2 separate regions of the Homo sapiens genome follow, and region 1 is linked to region 2. Evidence: fine-mapped expression QTL. A gene starts in region 2. The other region holds a variant in brackets. All regions are shown on one strand. Distances are between the middles of the regions. Region 1 overlaps LINC02218 (long intergenic non-protein coding RNA 2218). Region 2 holds the start of LINC02218 (long intergenic non-protein coding RNA 2218).

Region 1 (4,390 bases), 30 kb after region 2:
GTTCAAGAGTTCAAGACCAGCCTGGGCAACATAACAAGATCCCGGCCTCTACAAAAAAATAAAAAAAAATTAGCCAGGCATGGTAGTGCATGCCTATAGTCCCAGCTACTTGGGAGGCTGAGGTGGGAATATTGCTTGACCAGGGAGTTTGAGGCTGCAGTGAGCTATAATTGCAGCACTGCAGTCATCCTGGAGGACAGAATGAGACCCTGTCTAAAAAAAATTTTTTTTTTGAAATCTGTTGGTTAGAATGCTTCCTTCAGTGTTTCTATCAGGTCCCTCCTTAGTATCCTATACATATAATATAGAATTACATATAAAATACAAAAACTGGAAAACTTAAAAGAGATGGATAAATTCCTAAACACATTCACTCTCTCAAGACTGAGCCAGAAAGAAATTCATTCCCTGATCAGACTAATAACGGGCTCTGAAATTGAATCAGTAATAAATAACCTACTAACCAAAAAAAAAAAAAAAAAAAAAAAAAGACCAGGACCAGACAGATTCACAGCTGAATTCTACCAAATGTACAAAGAAGAGCTGGTACCGTTCCTACAGAAACCATTCTAAAAAATCGAGGAGGAGGGACTCCTCCCCAACTCATTCTATGAGGCCAGCATGATGTTCATACCAAAAACTGGAAGAGACACAACAAAAAAAGAAAACTTCAGGCCAATATCCTTAATGAACACGGATGCAAAAATCCTCAATAAAATACTGGCAAATCAAATCCAGCAGCACATCAAAAAGCTTATCCACCACGATCAAGTAGGCTTCATCTCCAGGATGCAAGTCTGGTTCAACATATGCAAATTAATACATGTGATTCATCACATAAACAGAACTAAAGACAAAAACCACATGATTATGTCAATAGATGTAGAAAAGGATTTTGATAAAATTCAACACTCCTTCATGTTAAAAACTCTCAGTAAACTAGGTAGTGAAAGAACATACCTCAAAATAATGAGTTATCTGTGACAGACCAACAGCCAACATTATACTGAATGGGCAAAAGCTGGAAGCATTCCCCTGGAAAACCAGCACAAGACTAGGATGCCCTCTCTCACCACTCCTATTCAATGTAAATTTGGAAGTCCTAGTCAGAGCAATCAGGAAAGAGAAAGAAATAAAGGGCATCCAAGAAGGAAGAGAGGATGTCAAAATATCTCTGTTTGTAGATGACATGATTCCATATCTAGAAAACCTCATAGTCCTGGCCCAAAAGCTCCTCCAGCTGATAAATAAGTTCAGCAAAGTCTCAGGATACAAAAATCAATGTACAAAAATCCTGAGCTTTCCTATATACCAACAACAGCCAAATCTCGAGCCAAATCAGAAAGACAATCCCATTCACAATTACCACAAAAAGAATAAAATACACAGGAGTATAGCTAACCAGGGAGGTGAAAGAATTGGCAAAATATTGTTCAATTACAAATTATAAAGAGAATTACAAAACACTGCTCAAAGAAATCAGAGAAGACACAAACAAATGGAAAAACATCCCATGCTCATGGATAAAAAGAATCAATATCATTAAAATGGCTATACTCTCCAAAGCAATTTACAGATTCAGTGCTATCTGTATCAAACTACCAAAGACATTCTTCACAGAACTAGAAAAAACTATTTTAAAATTTATATGGAACCAAAAAGGAGCCTGAATAGCCAAGGCAGTCATAAGAAAAAAGAACAAAGCTGGAAGCATCATGTTACCCAGCTTCAAACTATACTACAAAGGCTACAGTAAGCAAAACAGCACGGTACTGGTATAAAAACAGGCATATAGACAAGTGGAACAGAATAGAGAGCCCAGAAATAAGGCTGCACATCTATGACCATCTGATCTTTGACAAAGCTGACAAAAACAAGAAATGGGGAAAAGACTCACTGTTAAATAAAAGGTGCTGAGATAACTGGCTAGCCATATGCAGAAGATTGAAGCTAGACCTTTTCCTTAGACCATATGCAAAAATCAACTCAAGATGGATTAAAGACTTAAATGTAAAACTCAAAACTATCAAAACCCTAGAAGACAACCTAGGCAATACTATCCTGGGCATAAGAACAGGCAAAGATTTCATGACAAAGACACCAAAAGCCATTGCAACTAAAAGCAAAAATTGACAAGTGAGATCTAATTAAACTTAAGAA[C/A]TTCTGCACAGAAAAGGAAGCTATAAACAGAGTAAATAGCCAACCTACAGAATGGGAGAAAATACTTGCAAACTATGCATCTGACAAAGGTCTAGTATCCAGCATCTATAAGGAACTTAAACAAATTTACAGGAGAAAAACTAACAACCACATGAAAAAGTGGGCAAAGGACATGAACATACACTTCTCAAAAGAAGACCTACATGCAGCCAACAAGAATATGAATAGAAGTTCAATATCACTGATCATCAAAGAAATGCAAATCAAAACCACAATGAGGTACTATCCCACACTAGTCAGAATGGCTATTATGAAAAAGTAAAAAAATAACAGATGCTGGCAAGGTTGTGGAGAAAAAGGAACATGTGTACACTGTTGGTGGGAGTGTAAATTAGTTTAACCATTGTGGAAAGCAGTATGGTGATTCCTCAAAGAGCTGAAAGCAGAACTACCATTTGACCCAGCAATCCTATTACTGCTTATATACCCAGAGAAATAAAAATAATTCTACCATAAAGATACATGCACACAAATGTTCATTGCAGCACTATTCACAATAGCAAAGACAGGAAATAACCTAAATGCCCATCAATGACAGATTAAATAAAGAAAATATGGTATATATACACCATGGAATTCTATGCAGCCATAAAAAATGAGATCATGTCTTTTGAGAGAACATGGGTGGAGCTGGAGTCCATTATCCTTAGCAAACTAAAATAAGAACAGGAAACCAACTACTGCATGTTGTCACTTATACGTGGGAGCTAAATGATGAGAACTTGTGAACACAAAGAAGGAAACAATGGCCTGGCATGGTGGTTCACACCTGTAATCCCAGCACTTTGGGAGGCCAAGACGGGTGAATCACTTGAGGTCAGGAGTTTGAGACCAGCTTGGCCGACATGGTGTGAAACCCCATCTCTACTAAAAATACAACAAGTAGCCAGGCTGGTGGTGCATGCCTGTAATCCCAGCTATTCAGGAGACTGAGGTGCAAGAATCACTTGAACCTGGGAGGTGGTTGCAGTGAGCCAAGATCGTGTCACTGCACTCTAGCCTGGGTGACAGAGTAAAACTGTGTCTTGTAAAAAAGAGAAACCAAGAAACAGAGAAGGAAACAACAGACACTGGGGCCTACCTGTGGGTGGAGGGTGGGAGGAGGAAGAGGAGCAGAAAAGATAACTATTGGGTACTGGGCTTAGTACCCAGGTAATGAAATACTATGTACCACAAACCCCCATGACACGTTTTTACCTGTTTAACAAACCTTCACTTGTACCCCAAACCTAAGATAAAGGTTAAAAAAAATTCACTGGTCTAAATGCTTCCTTCAGTGCACCCATGAGGTCCCTCCATAGTATAAAATACACACGTATTGGCCGGACGCAGTGGGTCACACCTGTAATCCCAGCACTTTGGGAGGCCAAGGCAGGCAGATTGCCTGAGCTCAGGAGTTCCCGACCAGCCTGGGCACACAAACTCTGTCTCTACTAAAATGCAAAAAATTAGCCAGGCATGGCAGCATGTGCCTGTAGTCCCAGCTACTCAGGAGGTTGAGGCAGGAGAATTGCTTGAACCTGGGAGGTGGAGGTTGCAGTGAGTTGAGATCGCGCCCTTGCACTCCAGACTGGGTGACAGAGCAAGACCCTGTCTCAAAAAAAAAAAAAAAAAAGCTACATGTATTACATACACAATCACATATTGTATGACAGAGTGAGACTCTGTCTCAAAAAAAAAAAAAGCCACATGTATTAACATACACAATCATATATTGTATGACAGAGCAAGACTCTGTCTCAAAAAAAAAGCCACATGTACTACATACACAATCATATATTGTATAAGATAATTTATATACAATTTTATAAAATATTAAATATATTACATAAAATAGTATTGTATACTAATATATATGAAATAGTAGTATATACATGTAATATATAATATTTGGCAGTATTTAAATGCTATGGGATAAAGACAATAAGGAGAAAATGGCTAAAAGATAGATATACATGTATATGTACATAAATTTCAATATGTTAGCATATACATATTAATATGTTTGATGTTATTACTGTGTACTAGTATCTATCTATATTTAGCTTGTTAATAAATATGCTTGCTCAAGACTAGATTAGAGCCTTTGTTAATTATGTTGCTAAGGCGCTCTTGCTTTCCTCTGATACCCATCACCAGGCCGAGCTTCAGTTTATTTCCAATCACTGTC
Region 2 (4,400 bases):
CAGAGACTGTCTTAGCATAATAGAGCATGGAGTGGTCATGCTTGGATGTGCAAACTGTCTGATAGTCTTGCACATGGCTTGACCCCGAATTACACTAGTGGGGCAAGTTGCCTGGGGCAAAGCAAACTTATTGGACCCAAAGCTCTCATTTGAGAATTTTGTTGACTAAAAGTTATAAAATATCAGCAATTTCATATGGTTCAGCCTAATATTTTATCACTCTTCCTTTTTCTATTCTAAAACAATAATTTTTAATAACGTAAGCTATACACATACATGCTTTAAACATACAACACCCTGACTATCATATAGTGGATATTTCAAGAAGTAAATGTTCAGCATGTCTTCACCCCCACTTGAAGACATAATGTATGTATTAGGCTGTTCTGGCATTGCTATAAAGAAATACCTGAGACTGTGTAATTTATAAGAAAGGAGCTTTAATTGGCTCACGGTTCTGCAGGCTGTACAGGAAACATATTGGGTCTACTTCTGTGGAGGCTTCAGGGAACTTTGACTCATGGTGGAAGGTGAAATGAGAGCAGGCACCTCATGTGACTGAAGCAGGAGCAAGAAAGAGAGAGCGAGCAAGGTGCCACACACTCTTAAACAACCAGAACTCTCTCTTGAGAATTCACTCACTGTCTTGCCGTCAGCACCAAAGGGATGGTCCTAAACCATTCATGAGAAATCCTCCTCCATGATCCAATCACCTCTCACCAGGCCCTACCCCCAACACTGGGATTACAATTCAACGTGAGATTTGGGCCTGGACACAGATCCAAACCCTATCAATATATTAGCCAGATACTTGCAGCTGTATGAAGAATACCCTGGTTACCCAGCTACAAATGCAGATGTTATTGATAAGGGAGGGGGGCAGGGAAGTGCTGGGAGGAGAAAGCAGGTCTCTGGCGAGGGCTTCACCCCGGTGCCTGTGCCCACAGACCTAGGTAAGGGCAGGCACTCCTGCCTTTGCGCCCAAATGTTGCATTTCCCAAGACCACCCTGGCCCACCACGCCCCCATCCTGTGCCTATAAAAACCCCGAAACACTAGTGGGCACTCACACAAGCGGCTGGACGTCCAGAGGACGTCAACAAGAGCACGCCGACAGGCAGACCCTGGCAGGCCATCGACTGGCGGAAGGACATGGAGTTTGGCTGCGTGGTTGGAGGAGAGCCAGGCCGCTAGGTGGCCTGACTCCAGGAAACTACACCTTCCCACTCCATCTCCCTTCTGTCTCCCCTGTCTGCTCACAGCTACTTCCTCTCAATAAAACCTTGAACTCATTCTCCAAGCCCACGTGTGATCTGATTCTTCCGGTACACCAAGGCAAGGACCCTGGGATACAGAAAGTCCTCTGTCCTTGAGATAAGCCAGGGGGTCTAATTGAGCTGACTAACACAAGTCGCCTACAGATGGCAAAACTAAAAGAGCACCCTGTAACACACGTGTGCCCACTGGGGCTTCAGCTGTAAACATTCACCCCTAGACACTGCTCTTGGGTTGGAGCCCCACAACCCAGCCGTCCGCATGCTCCCCTAGAGGTTTGAGCAGTGGGGCACGGAAGAAGCGAGCCACTCCTCCTGTTGCACACCCTGCGGGTGGCGCAAGGGAACGTTTCCTGTTTCATCATCAGGGATATTGTATCGGTGTCTTAAATAACACTAGCATTTTGACATATTTGGAGCTGCTACTGGGCCAGCTCTGTTTCCAGGCCTGCCTTTCAATCTTTTCCTTGCTTCTGGCATGAGTTACCATCTCTTTTAAGAAATTGGTTATGCATTTGAAAATACACGTAGCTATACATACTTTAAACATATCATTTAGCAAGGATGCTCCTTATCGGACCGTTGCTGGGAACAGAGAACACGACAGTTCCAGGTGAGCGAAATAGTGTGATCTCATACATGATGAAAGCTAAGCAGGCAACAGCTTTTCCGTAAGCAAGCATTTCAAAATGTATTTGTAGAAAGGCAGTAAAAGAATAAGATGCAAATCAAGCTATTTTTAAACCATCGTTTTCAGGGCCAAGGAAGAAATTATGAGAATGAATTTTTTAAAAAAAGATTATAAGGTCTTTAGTGGTGTTTTTAGTTGAAGTAATTTAGAGATGATTAGGTATTGCTATTTTTTATTCAATTCTTTACAACAAAAGCTTACAGAAATAGAAAGCTTTGCCATTTCTTTTCCCCACAACTTTAAAAAGTAAAGAGTGAGTGTTGGGTCACAATAATCTTTCTTTTTTAGTCTCCTTTTTGTGCAAATTCATCCACCATCAAATTACATTGTACTCCTTCCTCCTCTGTGACTACCTGTGGAAGAATGTTTATATAAATAAACCCAAAGGCCTGTCTTTTTGTCTGTTGCTCTGAGTAAGTGGTGCAAAATAGATGCCTTAGTCTGGTGATTTGATTTAATACAAATGGACCTTGTTAGAACACTTCTTTACACCTGAGATATTGGGAGATTTACTTGTAACCTTCCTTGCTACGTGAACAGCAGTAGTATTTGCTGTTTCTAAGATGTGTTGTAGTTTGAAAGATTTTGTTTGTATCATGCCAAAGTGACTGCATTAAGAAGTTCCTAGTTGACTGATTAAAACAAAACAAAACAAAACTCCTTTAATCATTCAGCTGTTTGACCTATGCTAGTGTATAGGTGCTATACACAATTATATATTTTGATGCTTTCTGTTTTATTATGTGGCAGTGTGTAGTCCCAGTATTTATGCTAATTATATCGTTCTTTGGAATCCAGTTTTTCTTTTTGTAAATTTGGATTAAAGTCTATCATGGCTCCTTTCAAAGAGAGCACTAAATGTAAATGGAGGGTTCTTTGATACCATTAGAGAGATGGGACTGAGATCTCAAAGAAATAGGCTGCACTGGCTCTGGGGTGAATGGGTCCTATGACTTGTAGGGCTTCAGAGTAGGACACACAACTCTGGGGCTAAAGCTCAGGACATTGGCCATGCAGTTGAACATTTCTGCCCGTTCTTTCCTGGTCCTGCCCTGTGCAATTTCCAGCTTCTGTAAATACATATTGAAGGTATGTATACATAGCAAAGGTGTGCCAAAGTGTACAGTTGCTCAGATTATTTGCACACCTTGGTTTGGCCCTGGCCAGTTGAAGGAGTCATGAGGAAATACCTTGCTGCGATGACTTCTGTCATTCATTTCTCTGTGTATATTGGTACTAATTGATTTTTTTTGGCAGAGTTTAAAGTACTTTTGAACTTTTCCCCTTTCTTCTCTCCTCTGCTTCTTTTTCCAGACTGTTTCCAAGATTGGATGAAGAGATTCAATTGACAATGCTGTGAAGAGAGGGATTTGGAGCTTGTTGGGGGAGGTAGTGTTGACTTCCTTGTGCAATCTAGGATTGAGTGGGGGATGCAGTTGGAAGGCAAGAGAAGTAAGACTCCTCCATCTTCCTGGTCCAGAGAAATTATGCTGGATCCCCCTACCCTTAATGAGAAAGGAGGTGTTTGTGTTTCCAGCATCTATGAGATCTGATTGCTAATGTAGCTACCTTTAAAGAATTCTGCTATTTACAATAAAAGTGAGATCTCCCTCCTCCATCCTGTGTTACACAGCCTGGGATTGCACCGTTGTTCCTGGCACCTTTGCATTGCAGGAGCCTGCCTTTGACTTTCTTTCCTCTCCACACATCTTCTATTCCTGCTGCTTCTCTTTTCAGAAAGTGCTGAGCTTCTAGGCTAGTGTCCCTCTCAACGGATGAATATTCAGCAGAGAATGGAGAGCTTTCAACCGTAAGAATCAGGATGTGGCTGTTTATAAAGTTATTGCATTTTTTTGAAGAGTGGCTGCAATTAGTTTTGGTGTTAGGCAGCAAAAACCCCAAAATGTTCTTTCTGATTTCATGTTGCTTGCATAATACAGATACCCATTTACTGGAAGAAATCTTCATGGGTAAGTGTATGAGTGTGTATGCATAAGTATGTGTATGTGTGTGTGTGACTCCACATATATTCCTAGAGTGCCTTCTATGTGCCAGGCATGGTGTTAGTTGACATATGTAATTGAGAGTAAAACAGTCATGATCTCTGCTCTTAACCAATTTACAATCTAGGATAAAATAGACCTTCCATGTTCAAATCCACAATGACATTAATTGCAATATGATCATTGTTGTGCTTGAATAATAGCTAAGAAAAGCACAAAGAACTTACAAGGTGGCTTAACAGAAGAACATCATCTAGCTTAGAAGTCTGGATAGCCCCTTTCTAAGAAAGCGGTACGAGTAAGGATGAATAGGAATAGGCCAGATAAAATACGAAGCCAGGAGTTGGAGGTGGACACGGGGGAGGGAGGTGACATTGTACTGATGGAGAGATGTGGAGAGCTGAGGAGGCTGATGAATGTAGAGAAAGTTGAA

Evidence for each region. PIP is the estimated chance that this variant, and not a neighbour inherited with it, causes the effect.
Region 1: its variant is the best candidate, but not a certain one, in a credible set for the expression of LINC02218 in whole blood (TOPMed, PIP 0.61).

Annotation. Positions count from the first base shown.
Region 1 is chr5:17,472,854-17,477,243 of GRCh38, forward strand. All of the region lies in intron 1 of LINC02218 (long intergenic non-protein coding RNA 2218), which reads left to right. Among named protein-coding and RNA genes, the nearest start is that of H3Y2, 17 kb to the right of the region's middle. The variant C/A (reference allele first, on the strand shown) is at 2,161.
Region 2 is chr5:17,442,349-17,446,748 of GRCh38, forward strand. It overlaps LINC02218 (long intergenic non-protein coding RNA 2218), which reads left to right and starts at 1,662. Exons shown (of 3, transcript NR_134270.1): 1 at 1,662-1,886.